Linked DNA regions of Homo sapiens. The protein of the gene in region 3 interacts with the protein of the main gene of each other region in a biochemical or structural test. Each region holds a gene or a part of one and is shown on either strand. Other genes may lie near its edges.

Region 1 (3,500 bases), on a different chromosome or scaffold from region 3:
CCACATGTTTTTATTACATTTTACAAAGTGTGCTCATACTAGGAGGCCAAATAGAGAAAAGGCCAAGAAAAGTAGATGATTGATGTGAACATCTGATCTTATTTGACCAAAGTTGACAAAATATTGATGCCACTGTTTGGTGTTTAAAAGTAAGATTAACTAAAATGCCCCAATTTAAATTTCTAAAATTTAAATCCTCTTCTTGAATTGTTTGTTTGTTGAGATCTCACATTATCAGATCTTTAGTAATTCTGGAAGAATTTGCTAAAGGGTGAAAAGAATATTTTTGTTAAATATTTGGTTAAGTAGGTGGTTTGATTTTTAATCACTATAACTAAAGGGGTTGGGACTTCCAGATTCCCAAAGGATCCTTTTAAACCAAAGTAAAACTGATTTAATAGTTTTACTATTTCACATTTTTGTGAAAAATTCACACTTACAAATTTTCTTTCTACTTGAAATAAATCCAAGGTGGTAACTGGTATCTGTCTATCAAATAAGTTAATAAAAATGTGGGAAACAGAGACACATGTTTATGACAGAAATTAAGATACAACCTTGATATTTGTTGCTGAATTTCAGTGTGTTACCCTCTCATGTAACTGAAGTTTCTTTTTAAGTAAAGGCTCACTTTTTTCTTTTTGTGAAACAGAGTTTTCATAGTAGACCTATCTTTGTGGTCAACAGGTATCTGAGGTTGATAAATGTAGAGGCTACATTTTATGATGCCAAACCACAATGACATACCATAGAACATGATAAAAATTTTTTGACAAAACTGCTTCTAGTAAAAATAAATCATGTAGAAGCACAGATGGTTGATGGTAAAATATGTAATAGCTTTCAGAACAATGCATAGATGGTGACTATATAGGAAAACAAAGGAATTTAGAGAAAAAATATATATATATACCAGGAAATGCACTCATAGGACACTTTGGAATAAAAGTGGTAGTGTTTGAGAATGATGAATGATTTGCCTATCATTTCAAATGTGCATTATTAATCTAAAAGTCATTTTAGGCATTTGGCATACAGACAGATTTTCTTCACATTTACACCAATTGGGGTTACATCTCTAATAATATGTTGTATTTTATAGTGTAAGGTAGTCTTAATGGTAAAGCTTCAGAAGAGAGCTAGCATATTTTCTTGGCATGTGACAATAATCTGCACTGTCCCCAGGGCTCCGTGGATTAGCCCATCTCCTGAATACTACACTGAATACTCCAGGCTTTAGACTGCAAGTCATTTCTTTTTCTTTGCTGCTGCTCGTAGAAAATTGGAACCTTGTGAGGCTGAGGAAATCTGTTTGACTTTTGTGTTCCATAACATGGATAAATCAGGTCCTTGGAATGATCAGCCTCTGATAGATTGTCCCAGAAGACTACAAATTAAATAAAGACTAAAGAAGTAATTGGCTGTAGAGTGGAGTGTGGATTTATTCCTAGGTCTGAATAAGGCATTGTGTGGCATCCAGAGAGAGGCAGGACAGAGGAAGCAGTGAGAGAGAAGCAATTCTAGAAAATGTGGATACCTTGCTGCTCAGTGTGGCTTATAGACAGTAGCACATGCATCCCCCGGAGCTTTGTAGAGATGCTAAAGCTCAGCTCCCACCCCAGAGCTACTGAGTCAGAATATGTGGTTTGTGTGCACGTTAAAGTTAGCGATGCTGGCTACCATCCTTGGTTCCTGGTGGCATCTTTTAGGAAGAGTTGCTACCTGGGATGGATTCTGCATTGTCCCCTTCCAGTGGCCTTAAAGATCTATAGTGTTACTTGGAATACCGAGTATTTCCCAGGTGTCCACTATTGTGATCTGACTTTAGGAAGACATAAATTGGATGAAGGAGAGATAGCAAGCAGGTAGATCAACTATAAGCCCAGTCTTCTCATGAATATTTTTCGTAGTAGTTATATAGTTTATATTGGCATCACTGGTCCCATTAAAAAGTAAGATAGCTTTTCTTCAATTAAAGGCAAGAGAATTAGCTCTTTTAATAGCTCTGTTAGTTATTATTTTATCCCCTCATAACACAGTTTAAATTCTGTAAATGACTTTAGTGACCTTGCAGCTTCTTTAAGACAAAGGGACTCTTGCAGGCAAGGGATTGAGTTTTGGGCAGGTGATGGAGAGTGACCCTCTAAACTGGGAACTGTGACGACATTCAGCTTCATGTCTTAGGAGAGAGTGAGATAGGAGCCACTAGAAGAATGAGATGATTCAGACAAGAGATTGTAGGAGATTGGCTTTATTCTGTTGACAAGATGGTAATCCGACTTATTTTTTGGTTTTTTGGTGTTGGTGGTTTAGGAAGACAGGAACTTCTCCACACCCGGTAGAGTTCAGCTGCCTTTTCATTAGTCAGCAAGCAGTTTTTCCTTTCTCAAGGCAGTCCACATCCAGCAAAACATTTGATTAACTGGAAAGCAATACCATTCTCATGCCAGTGTACAAATTACATGAAAGAGCATCATTTTTCTAGTGTCTGAGGATTGGCTGCTTATGGCCAATTTTGGCAGCAAGACGATAGGATTAAAAATAGCTTGAAGATGATCTAGTCTTAAATAATATATTTCATGATGAACTTTCCTTGGGAAAGTGCATCTTTCTGCCTACAAGAATCACATGACCCCTTTCAATAATTTATGTAGTAGAGAAAAACACACTATTTCTCATAGAGTTTTCAGTCATGTGCTGTGGTGTGATTGTTTCTGGACATTCATAAAATTTTATAGTTAACTGAATTCTCTTTTCTGTTTTGTTGCTATTTAACGTCCATTGAAAACATGGCTTTCTTTTGCGCATTCTGTTACTTTCAGCTGTACTTTCTAATAAGAATGGATTGCCCTTTTTAGCAATCTTTGATTGAACTGGTACATTTCAGATTACTTAAATGTCATCAGGCCACACAGCATACCAGGTAACAGAAAGCCATAAATTAAAAATAAAAAAAAGGCAAGCAAAATTCTTGTTGTTTTTTCTTATCTCTGTTCCCAGTCCTATTGCGCTATTTGGAGGGATGATACGCCCACTCATGAGCGAGTGTGTGGGTGCTGCATGTTAACAGTGGTTCTTCCCACCCAACATACCTCCGCACCCTTTTCTAAGGTCACTCATTGTGTCTTAGCAGTAGTTTAGCAAAGCAGTATCTCAGCAGAAGTGCATTTGTGCTAGAAAACAACACTGTCTTTGTAGTGTACAAGTAGAACGTTTTCTTTTTCCCCCAGAGATATATTGTATTTGAGATTCAAAGGTTCTGTTCAACCTTTTTAAGGTAATCTAATATCACCTTATTCAGGTATAACAGTAACTTGTCAATCTGGTCATCCTTTCTGTCAACCACATGTAGGAGACCACTCAGTGAATTTACTCCACTGTGAATTTTCTCTTTCATCCCTCTTGGTTTGGCTTAATCAACCTTAATGTTTGATGTCTAAGCAGGATTAATGATGAAAATCATCCAAGGACTGACAGTTATTCCACAGATGTGATTGCCA
Region 2 (3,500 bases), on a different chromosome or scaffold from region 3:
CTGGTTTTCACGAATCAGTGAAATTTAAATTTCAAGAAATGTATCCTTTCTTGAAATTTAAGTGTCAATTTAAGCTAGAATTGAACCTTGTTTTATTAGTAACCAACCATCCCAGTTGAACCCAGAAGTGTATTTCTCAAACTTTAATTTGTGATAAGATTTGATGAAGGGTGAACACGCGCAGAGCTCCTTCGAGGTCTTGTTCTTGTGGAGGTCCCGTGGGTGCTGCTGTAACTGGTGAAGCAGGGCTCGCTTTTTGTTAATAGAAACTGGATCTTCCTTTTGTAGCTGGAAGCTCAGCTTGATGATGCTGTTGCTGAGGCCTCCAAGGAGCGCAAGCTTCGTGAGCACAGCGAGAACTTCTGCAAGCAAATGGAAAGCGAGCTGGAGGCCCTCAAGGTAGTGCTGGGCGGGGGTCTCTGCCCTTAACTGAGAGGGATGCTTATCTTTGCTGACGCCACCACATGGAAGTCACCTTGTGTAATGTGTGGTCCGGGCCGAGTGTCACCCGAGGCTGTTCAGACAAGACCCACATGTGGAGAGGTGGGGGGTGTGACCCCTGCCTTCGTGACTGCTTTCATTTTTAAAGGCCAAGTTCATGTTTTTCCTTTGTTATATAAAAGTTTCAGGCAATTCACAGTAAGTCCTAGGAAACGAATATCTAATTGGCTCATTTCCTACTCCAGCCCCATCAATTCATAGCCTTCTTCACATCGTGGTATTCTAAATTCGGTGCAGTTGAGTTTTGGAAAAGCTCCTTAAAGCCCGTAGCCTGCTGCTGACTGGGGAAGAGACAGGCTGGCCATCAGTCGGGGCCCACTGGTGGGGCTGGAGGGTAGCAGGGAGGCCGCGGAGGGCGGGAGTGGGGAAGGCCACAGTGGCCAAGTGGGCAAGGGGCCGGAGGCGGATCTCCTTGGCAGTATGGCGTGGCCTGGATCTCCTCATGTGTGAGCCGCGTGCGATGGGTCTGCCCTCTCCCTTCGCCTCAGTGATCTGGCAACTCTTCCTCTGGGACGTGGGCCTGAGATGCTGTTCCTCCCTGGCAGCGGGCTTGGCTGGACCTCGGCATGTGGTGCCCGAGGCTCCTGCCCCTTTCTCAGCCCTTGAGTCTCCTCTCTGCACAGCAGGCAGAGTGAGCTTGGCAGACCAAAGCCGGATCACATTCCTGTGCGGCAGGGCCTCCGTGGCTCCGCAGCTGTCCAGCAGCTACCCTCCTGCCTGCTCCAGCCCAGCAGTGCCTCTCCTGCCCCTCCTTGCCCCGCCACACCAGACACACTGGCCTCTCTGCATGCTGCAAACACTGCCAACACGTCCCACCTCACTCCAGCCTGTGCCCTTGTTCTTTGCCCCTAGCCTGACACCTCACTTAATAGGCCAGCACCTTACAGAAGCCGCCCCAGCCATCCTGGCACGCCCTCCACTCCCTACAACCTGGCTGGGGTGCACGGCCCCTCTGCCCCTTTACTGGTTTGCTGTCAGTTCCCGCCAGCCCCAAGAGAGCAGAGACCTCAGTGTCACCCCAGTCACAAGGAGGGGGCCCAGCACAGAGTCAGCCCTCAGAAGAATGCTGCAAGCATGAATGAACAGGGTGTGGGGCAGAGCTTCGGGGGTCCCAGGCAGACCTGGGCACATCCCCCTGCAAGGCCGTCTCCTGCTGTGACCCCCTAGAACCTGGATCACGTTAGCCAGGTCAGCTACGTCATCTGGTGTAGACCAGGCACACACAGTCCTTGGGAAGGTGTCTGCACTTGCTTGGGATGAAAGGGGTTGAAAGGACAGTGTGACCCTTGAGGACACAGAGGTTTGTCAATTTATGTTAACCTTTGTCTTCAGGTGAAGCAAGGAGGCCGGGGAGCGGGTGCCACCTTAGAGCACCAGCAAGAGATTTCCAAAATCAAATCCGAGCTGGAGAAGAAAGTCTTATTTTATGAAGAGGAATTGGTCAGACGTGAGGCCTCCCATGTGCTAGAAGTGAAAAATGTGAAGAAGGAGGTGCATGATTCAGAAAGCCACCAGCTGGCCCTGCAGAAAGAAATCTTGATGTTAAAAGATAAGTTAGAAAAGTCAAAGCGAGAACGGTAGGTTTTCATGAGCTTCTCAGTTCAGAAGATGCAAGCTGATACCCACGCCATAGATACGAATATCAGTGAAGTTACGAGCTTTTAAAACTGTTTCTCGCTCACCTTGGCAGGCATAACGAGATGGAGGAGGCAGTAGGTACAATAAAAGATAAATACGAACGAGAAAGAGCGATGCTGTTTGATGAAAACAAGAAGCTAACTGCTGAAAATGAAAAGGTAATTAATTCAAAGTACCTGAGTTAGCACTTTGTGTGGAAGTTGTAATTTAAAAAAAAATTATTTTTAATTTGTGTGGGTACATAGTAGGTATATATATTTATGGGGGAGTAGAATGTCGTCATTCTTGAGTCTTGGAAGTTTGGTTTTTTTTTTTTGAGATGGAGTCTCGCTCTGTCGCTCAGGCTGGAGTGCAGTGACGCGATCTTGGCTCACTGCAACCTCTGCCTCCCAGGTTCATGCCATTCTCCCACCTCAGCCTCCCAAGTGGCTGGGACTACAGGCGTCTGCCACCACGCCTGGCTAAGTTTTTGTATTTTTAGTAGAGACGGGTTTTCACCGTGTTAGCCAGGATGGTCTCAATCTCCTGACCTCATGATCCACCCACCTCAGCCTCCCAAAGTGCTGGGATTACAGGCATGAGCCACTGCGCCGGCCGAAGTTTGGTGTCTTTTTACAGTGCAGTAATGTGCCATATAACGATGCTTCCATCAATGATAGACTGTGTGTACAACAGGCGTCCCGTACGATCATAATACTGTACTTTACTCTACCTCTTCTGTGTTGAGATACACAGATACTTAGCATTGTGCTACAGCCGCCGGCAGCGTCCCGCACAGCAACATGGTATGCAGGCTTGGGGCCTGGAATTGACAGGCTGTACCACAGGGCCTGGTGTGCGGCAGCCGCACCGTCTAGGCTTGCGTGAGTGCATTCACGCTGTGTGTGCAAGGACACGTTTCTCAGACCGTGTTCTTGCTGTTTCACTACACGTGACTGTTTTAATTTTTGAATGGAGTCATGTGTTTGGTCTTTTAAATAGGATGTTTGTATTCAGCGAAAAGATGCCAATTGCCTGAAGTCACTAGCTCCAGCTCCATCAGTTTAGGTTTAGATTTGAATTGAAATGTGACTTAAGCTAGATACAGTGAAAAAAATCCATATCATGAACTTAGTTTGGAAAAATCTCATGACGATTAAAGAAAACTTTCAGAGTCTTCAAAAGAACTTCCAGTGTTAAATCCAGCATACTTAAAGGATGCCCGATTAACAAGTTCTGTGGTGAAATTGTTTCATTTCAGCTCTGTTCCTTTGTGGATAAACTCACAGCTCAAAATAGACAGCTGGAGGATGAGCTGCAGGATCTGGCAGCCAAGAAGGAGTCAGTGGCCCACTGGGAAGCTCAGATTGCGGAAATCATTC
Region 3 (3,656 bases):
ACAAAAGGAGGAGAATGAATGCCTCAGTCAGATTGTTTGAAAAAATAGGCTGGGCGTGATGGCTTATGCCTGTAATCCCAGCACTTTGGGACGCTGAGGTAGGCAGATCACCTGAGGTCAGGAGTTCGAGACCAGCCTGGAGAACATGGTGAAGCCCCATCTCTACTAAAAGTACAAAAAACTAGCCGGGGGTGGTGGCGGGTGCCTGTAATCCCAGCTACTCTGGAGCCTGAGGCAGGAGAATTGCTTGAACCTGGGAGGCGGAGGTTGCAGTGAGCTGAGATTGCGCCACTACACGCCAGCCTGGACAACAGAGCGAGACTGTCTCAAAAAAAAAAAAAGGAAAAGAAAAATGTTAGAGGGCTGGTCAAATAGATATTTTAGTTCAGTAAATTGGGGTATGGAGAGGTAATATAATTAGATTTGTGTTTTTAGATACTTTTGAAGTATTATAAATATATAAACATACCAAATGTCAAAATGTTTTAAATCAGCTGGTCACGGTGGCTCGTGGCTATAATCCCAGCACTTTGGGAGGACAGGACAAAGTGAGCATATTGCTTGAGTCCAAGAGTTTGTGACCAGCCTGGGCAACATAGTGAGACCTTGTCTACAAAAAAATAATAATAATTAACCGAGTGTGGTGGCACAGGCCTGTAGTCCCAGCTACTCAGGCTGAGGTGGGCAGAGTTGCCTGAGCCCAGGAGGTCGTGGCTGCAATGAGACTTGATCTTGCCACCCTACACTCTAACTTGGGGAACAATGAGACCCTGTCTCAAAAAAAAAAAAAAATATCGAGGAAGAAGTTCAAGAAAAAAAAGAATTTTTCTGAGAAATTCAAGAAAACATTTGCTGTAAATATTTAACAGAGAATATTATGTACATTACATACATTATGTATGTACATATGGTTTAGCTCAGTTGAATAGTTTCCAGCCATTAACCATGACAGTAATAATCTAGACTAGGCTGGGTGCAGTGGTTCACGCCTGTTATCTCAACACTTTGGGAGGCTGGGGAAGGCGGGAAGGATCACTTGAGTCCAGGAGTTTAAGAACAGCGTAGTCAACATAAACCCCATCTCTACAAAAAGTTAAAAAAAATAGCCAGGTGCAGTGGTGCATGCTTGTAGTCTCAGCTACTCAGGAAGCTGAGGTGGGAGGATCACTTGAACCTGGGAGGTCAAGGCTACAGTGAGCCATGATGCACCACTGCACTCCAGCCGTGTGACAGAGCAAGACCCCTGTGTCTTTAAAAAACAAAAATCTAGAATGGTAGAAATGATAACCGAAAAAAGCAAGTTCCAAAATTACATGCATTACATGCCAATTGTAGCTTTGCAAAGTGTACTGATGATGATCTGAACATGAAGCAAAAGATGGTAAAGAGCTGTTAGGGTGGCAGGCTTCCGCCTTTCCCTTTAAATAAATTGTTTGACTTTACCTTTACCCAAAAATCTTGGGGAGATTTTTTCCCCCCTAGGCAACAGACTGATTTTTATTATTAAAGAATATTCAAAATGATAAATGGCTGTCACAGACTTTCCTAATATTAGAGAAGCAGTGAGATGTGGTTTTAGCGTGAGCTGAATTTTCTTGATTAATATCTGAATTGTGTAAAGTCCTACGAAATATTTTTGGAGATCGTTATTTTCTGCATCTGTAAAATGAAGGAGTTGGACTAGATGGTGGAAGGTTTCTGCGGTGACTCCAAATACTATGAAAAGAGCTAACCTGTGCTAAAAACCCAGGATGAATCCCAGTGCTCAGAGGAATGAATGTGCTACCTTTAAGAGTATGCAAGCAGCCTGGGCAACCTAGTGAGACCCCATCTCTTCAGAAAACAATTTTAGCCAGACATGGTGACATGTGCTGTAGTCCTAGCCACTCTGGAGGCTGAGGTGGGAGGATTGCTTGAGCCTAGGAATTTCAGGCTGCGGTGAGCTACTCCACTGCATTTGAGCCTGGGCGACAGAGTGAGATCCTATCTGGGGGGAAAAAAACTTACTCATGGAGGTTAATGGGCTGAATTGTAGCCCCCAAAATTCATTTGTCTAAGTCCTAACCCACAGCACCTCAGAATGTGACTGTATTTGGACAGGTAATTAAGGTAAAGTGGGGTCACATGGTTGGACCCTAATCCAGTGTAAGTGGTATCCTTATTAGAGATTAGGACACAGATGGGGAGAAGATAAGACAGATGGAGAAGATGAGCATCCATAAATCAAGGAGAGAGGCCATCAGAAGAAACCAACTGTGCTGACACCTTGATCTTGGACTTCTGCCTCTGGAACAGTGAGGAAGTAAATTTCTGTTGTTTAAGCCACCTATTCTCTGATGCTTTGTTGTGGCAGCCTTAGCAAAAGAATACCGGGGGAAAGGATGTTTCTTTCAGTAAATGGTGCTGAAGCAAATGGATCAGAATGTATCATAGAACTAAATGTAAGAGCTAAAGCTACAAAACTTCTAGAATAAATCAGAAAATCTTTGTCAGGTTAGTTAAAGATTCTTAGATATAACAAAAGCACAGTCCATAAAAAATTGAAAAATCGGACTTTATCAAAATTAAGATTATGTTTTTTCAAAAGATGACACCAGAAAAAAAGTACTTGTATTCAGATATTTAAAAAAAAAAAACTTTTACAGCTCAATAACAAGACAGATAATTGTAAAATGGGCAAAATATTTGAATAGATATTTTACCCAAGAAGATGATACATGAGTGGTCAGTGAGCACATGAAAAGATGCTTGATATCAATTGTAATCAGGGAAATGCAAATTAAAGTAACTGAGTTACTACTTCACATCTATTAGAATGGCTGTAATCAGTAAGGTTGATAATACCAAGTGTTGGTTAATACCGGAGATTAAACTCTTCATGCATTGCTGGTGGGAATATAACATGGTCTAGCTACTTTGAAAAACAGTTTGACTGTTTCTCAAAAAGTTAAACGTTACCAGGTGATCCAACAATTATATTCTTAGGAATCTTCCTAAAAGAAATGAAAGCATATGTCCACAGAAAAACTTCCATGTATATGATTATAGCAACATTATTCATAGTAGCCAAAAACCTCAGTAACATAATTGCCAGTTCATCTTAACTGTGAATAGAGAAACAAAAAATGGTATAGCCATACAGTGAAGGACTGTGCAACTATGAAAAGGAACAAACCACTGATCTATGCCAGAACATGGGTGAGCCTCAAAAATATTCTAAGTGATATTTAGCCAAAAGACTACATTTTGTATTCCATTTATATGACATTTCTAGAAAAGACAAACTCAAGACAGTAAATCAGTGGTTGCCAGGAGCTGGAGTGGGAGTGGAGAGTGACTGCAGGAGGGATCTTTTTGGGATAATGGAAAGGTTCTAAAACTGGATTGTGGTGATTGTTGCATAACTATAAATTTGTGAAAAATTACTGAACCGTAAAGTAATTTATGGGGTTTTAATAGCCCATTGATTTATGTTTGGTATAAAGTTGGTGGTAGAGGGAGTTTGATTTTAGTTGAGATGAGGTGGGCAAACACCCCATGGGCATTTAAAAATTCTGTAGAGCTGTGGTTTTGGTTCACTATGATATGAGGATGTGTGCTGTTTTTTCAACAAAATTGTAACTGCATTTTTTTCTATAGAAAGTTTCTTGAATTTT
Region 4 (3,500 bases), on a different chromosome or scaffold from region 3:
AAATGGCACTTACCAAAAATCCGAAAAAAAGACCTACTGCTGAAAAATTATTACAGGTATTATTTTTGCCCTGAAATATATATATATATTTCAAAAGATAAAATGTTATTCAATCAGATTTATAGTAAGTGTTCTGCATTGTATTTAATTTTTATAGCATCCTTTTGTAACACAACATTTGACACGGTCTTTGGCAATCGAGCTGTTGGATAAAGTAAATAATCCAGATCATTCCACTTACCATGATTTCGATGATGATGATCCTGAGGTAGGAATTGCTTTTACCAGCGGGCATATATAACATGTATATGTGTATGTATATATGTGTGTCTGTATGTACGTCTCAAAATCCATTTTTTTAATTTTGGGGCCTAGTTTAAATAAAAAAGCTCTTGAGGGAACAATTAATTCTTTGTCTTTGCCTTTCATGGAAAGTCAAATGCTAGGTTTTTCTTACTGACTACTTATAGGTGACTATAGTGTGAAAATGGCAAAGGCATATCATTTAATCCACTTGTTGAAATCACTGTAGTTATTTCAAAATAGCCATTTTTGGTGAAGTTGCCAAATAATCATTCACTGTAAAAGGGAAAGCAAATGGGAAGTGCCTAAACAAGACATTTGAATATTCAAAATTTCCCCTCAGTTTGCTTCTCAAAAAGAATCCTCAGTTTGGCCTGGTGGCTCATGTCTGTAATCCCATCACTTTGGGAGGCTGAAGCAAGAGGATTACTTGAGGCCAGGAGTTTGAAACCTGCCTGGTCAACATAGCAAGACCCCGTTTCTATCTTTAAAAAAAAATTCTTATATAATACTTCATAAATTATTAGAGGTTAGTAGGAAGTATAGGCTTGACTTTGCCAGTGACTAAAACTCAGCTATTCACTATGGAAATGTTTTAAAATGAGCCAGTATAGTTGTTAATAAAATAATTCTAATATGACAGAAGCATTGATATTAATGGAAGCTTCACTTCTGTTTGCATATGTAACATTCCTAGCACTGCTAATAGTTGTGGCAACCAAGATAAATTCAGTATATGTGACATGGCAGAATTCTGTTATTGGGTCTGTAACAGAAGTGGATAGGCTTTAACTCTACTGGCTTTATGGGAGGCCCTTAAAAATATTGTAAATTTCATTAATGACTGAAGGTGAAGTGTTTAGAAAGACGGCCACAGATTGTCTTAAGTCAGAGAGAACCTTTCTATCAATTCAGCATTGTCCCAGCTTGCCATCTTATGATAGATAAGCTATTTGTCCTTTTGTTTAAGGGTCTGGAAAAGAGTTTGGAGCTTAAAAATGTAAGGAATGTAAAGTATAATTAATCTTATAATTATACTCTGAAGAAGTTTTTTTTGTTTTGTTTTTGTTTTTTTTTGAGATGAGTCTTACTCTATTACCCAGGCTGGAGTGCAATGGCATGCTCTCAGCTCACTGCAGCCTCTGCCTCCTGGGTTCAAACGATTCTCCTGCCTCAGCCTCCTGAGTAGCTGGGATTACAGGAGCCCACCACCATGCCCAGCTAATTTTTGTATTTTTAGTAGAGATGGGGTTTTACCACATTGGCCAGGTTGGTCTCGAACTCCTGACCTTGTGATCTGCCTGCCTCGGCCTCCCAAATGCTGGGATTACAGGCATGAGCCACCGCACCTGGCCTGAAGAAGTTTTTTGGTGTTGATTTGCTTAATTTTATTTTTAAGAAAGTTAAGTTTTACAAACTCTTCTAGTCTTATTTAGTATACAGGCAGTCCTTGATGTGCATGGTAGTATGGGACTGTAAAAATGACTGCATAAGCTAAAATTCTGCAAAGTAATCTTAATAATCAGGAAAAATTATAATTGTTTCATGACTTTTAAAATTTTTTGTTAAAGCATAAACTCTGTTACTGTCAGTTGTAATTGTAGAAATGTGAAAAAATAGTAAAACTATTATTTACAGTGTATTATAAATATTAGAATCATCGAGAGTTAATGTGTTTCATTTCTTTGTTAATGAACTTTTCATGCACTTTTTTTACTTATCTAGTAGTCTGCTTATTGAGTAGTTTGCCTTTTCATCATGTGTCTGTGACACAGAGCAAGTATCTTTTCTATGCCTTGGCAAATTGTCATATTGCTTTCTAATTTTCTTTCTAATCATGATCATGATGTGCATCTGTTATTTACGTAGTAATTTGTGAACTGAAAGGCTACCAATAAAGTTTATACTTTATGCAATTTCAATTAATATACAGTGGTAACTGTTATTTGAACCATGATGTAGGGAACTAGTGTTATTTAACTAAATTATGGTAACTGAAATTGGTGCATAACAAAGCTGTAAAACAAGGACTGCCTATATCCTTTTCAGTGCACTAAATGCTACATGATTGTTTCTTACCTCACCCTATGTACTTGTCATGTCTTTTTAAAAATGTACTCAAAGAACAGAAATAATAAACCAAATAGAGAAGCAATCTGTGGAATGAAGATTCTTCTAAAACTTTCTCATATAGCAGGGAAAGAAACTCATCTTTCTTATCCAGACATTGTTTTGGTATTATAATTATAAATTGTTACAAATCTCTATGGTAAGTAGGTAAAATAAAGGAATTTAATTATTCCAGGGGTAGGATGAGGGGAAGCTGTTACATTCCCTCTCACAGTAGCTTAGAATAATGTTTTTCTTAAGAGAAATTCATAACTTTTTTATTTGCAAATGATTTGTAATTGTAATTGCTAAGTGCAGTGTTGTCACTCAAAATACGAATGTATCTAAGAATTTCAGCACTTACTGTGATACTAGAACTATTGTATGCATACTCTTAAAAATAAGGGTGGGCTCAGTGGCTTATGCCTGTAATCCCAGCACTCTGGAAGACCGAGGCAGGTGGATCACCTGAGGTCAGGAGTTTGGGACCAGCTTGGCTAACATGGTGAAACCCCGTCTCTACTAAAAATACAAAAATTAGCCGGGCATGGTGGCTCATGCGTGTAATCCCAGCTATTCAGGGGGCTGTGGCAAGAGAATTGCTTGAACCTGGGAGGCAGAGGTTATAGTGAGCCAAGATCATGCGACTGCACTCCAGCCTGGGCAACAGAGCGAGACTCCATCTCAAAAAAAAAAAACAAAAAATAGAAAAAGAAAAATATATATATATGTGTATTTATCTATATATACATATATACACACACACACACACACACACACATATACCACATCTAAGTCTAGTTTAAGTTTTTTATAGGTTATGCACTGTGGAAGAAAGTTTGACTTTTTAATGTTGAGTTCCCCTGTAGTTTCTATTTTAGAAGTAATTACACACTGGTGTAATTCTAATTCTGATTTTTATTCAGTTTTCGTCTCCTATATGTAAGCCCACTTACTATGTACAGCATTATAAGATTTAACAATTTTATTAATCTGTTATGCTAATAAATTAATAATTTATTGTGCTGTTTAAGCCGGGAAGGTAAAACTGTTCTCAGAAATAATCATGAGTTTCATCCATGTTCATT

What was found.
Region 1: of the proteins of PPP2CA (region 3) and BCL2, one has a biochemical effect on the other in vitro, tested with the Homo sapiens proteins (2 studies listed by BioGRID, with this or other methods).
Region 2: of the proteins of PPP2CA (region 3) and CDC42BPB, one has a biochemical effect on the other in vitro, tested with the Homo sapiens proteins (one study listed by BioGRID).
Region 4: the proteins of PPP2CA (region 3) and MAP4K3 form a complex in vitro, tested with the Homo sapiens proteins (one study listed by BioGRID).

The regions. Positions count from the first base shown.
Region 1 is NC_000018.10:63,313,270-63,316,769, reverse strand, and holds part of BCL2 (apoptosis regulator Bcl-2), read left to right. Parts: intron 1-3,500. UniProt on the Homo sapiens protein: Suppresses apoptosis in a variety of cell systems including factor-dependent lymphohematopoietic and neural cells. Regulates cell death by controlling the mitochondrial membrane permeability. Appears to function in a feedback loop system with caspases.
Region 2 is NC_000014.9:102,967,050-102,970,549, reverse strand, and holds part of CDC42BPB (serine/threonine-protein kinase MRCK beta), read left to right. Parts: intron 1-288; coding exon 289-399; intron 400-1,833; coding exon 1,834-2,078; intron 2,079-2,191; coding exon 2,192-2,297; intron 2,298-3,379; coding exon 3,380-3,500. UniProt on the Homo sapiens protein: Serine/threonine-protein kinase which is an important downstream effector of CDC42 and plays a role in the regulation of cytoskeleton reorganization and cell migration. Regulates actin cytoskeletal reorganization via phosphorylation of PPP1R12C and MYL9/MLC2.
Region 3 is NC_000005.10:134,202,074-134,205,729, reverse strand, and holds part of PPP2CA (serine/threonine-protein phosphatase 2A catalytic subunit alpha isoform), read left to right. Parts: intron 1-3,656. UniProt on the Homo sapiens protein: Catalytic subunit of protein phosphatase 2A (PP2A), a serine/threonine phosphatase involved in the regulation of a wide variety of enzymes, signal transduction pathways, and cellular events.
Region 4 is NC_000002.12:39,322,286-39,325,785, reverse strand, and holds part of MAP4K3 (mitogen-activated protein kinase kinase kinase kinase 3), read left to right. Parts: coding exon 1-56; intron 57-157; coding exon 158-268; intron 269-3,500. UniProt on the Homo sapiens protein: Serine/threonine kinase that plays a role in the response to environmental stress. Appears to act upstream of the JUN N-terminal pathway.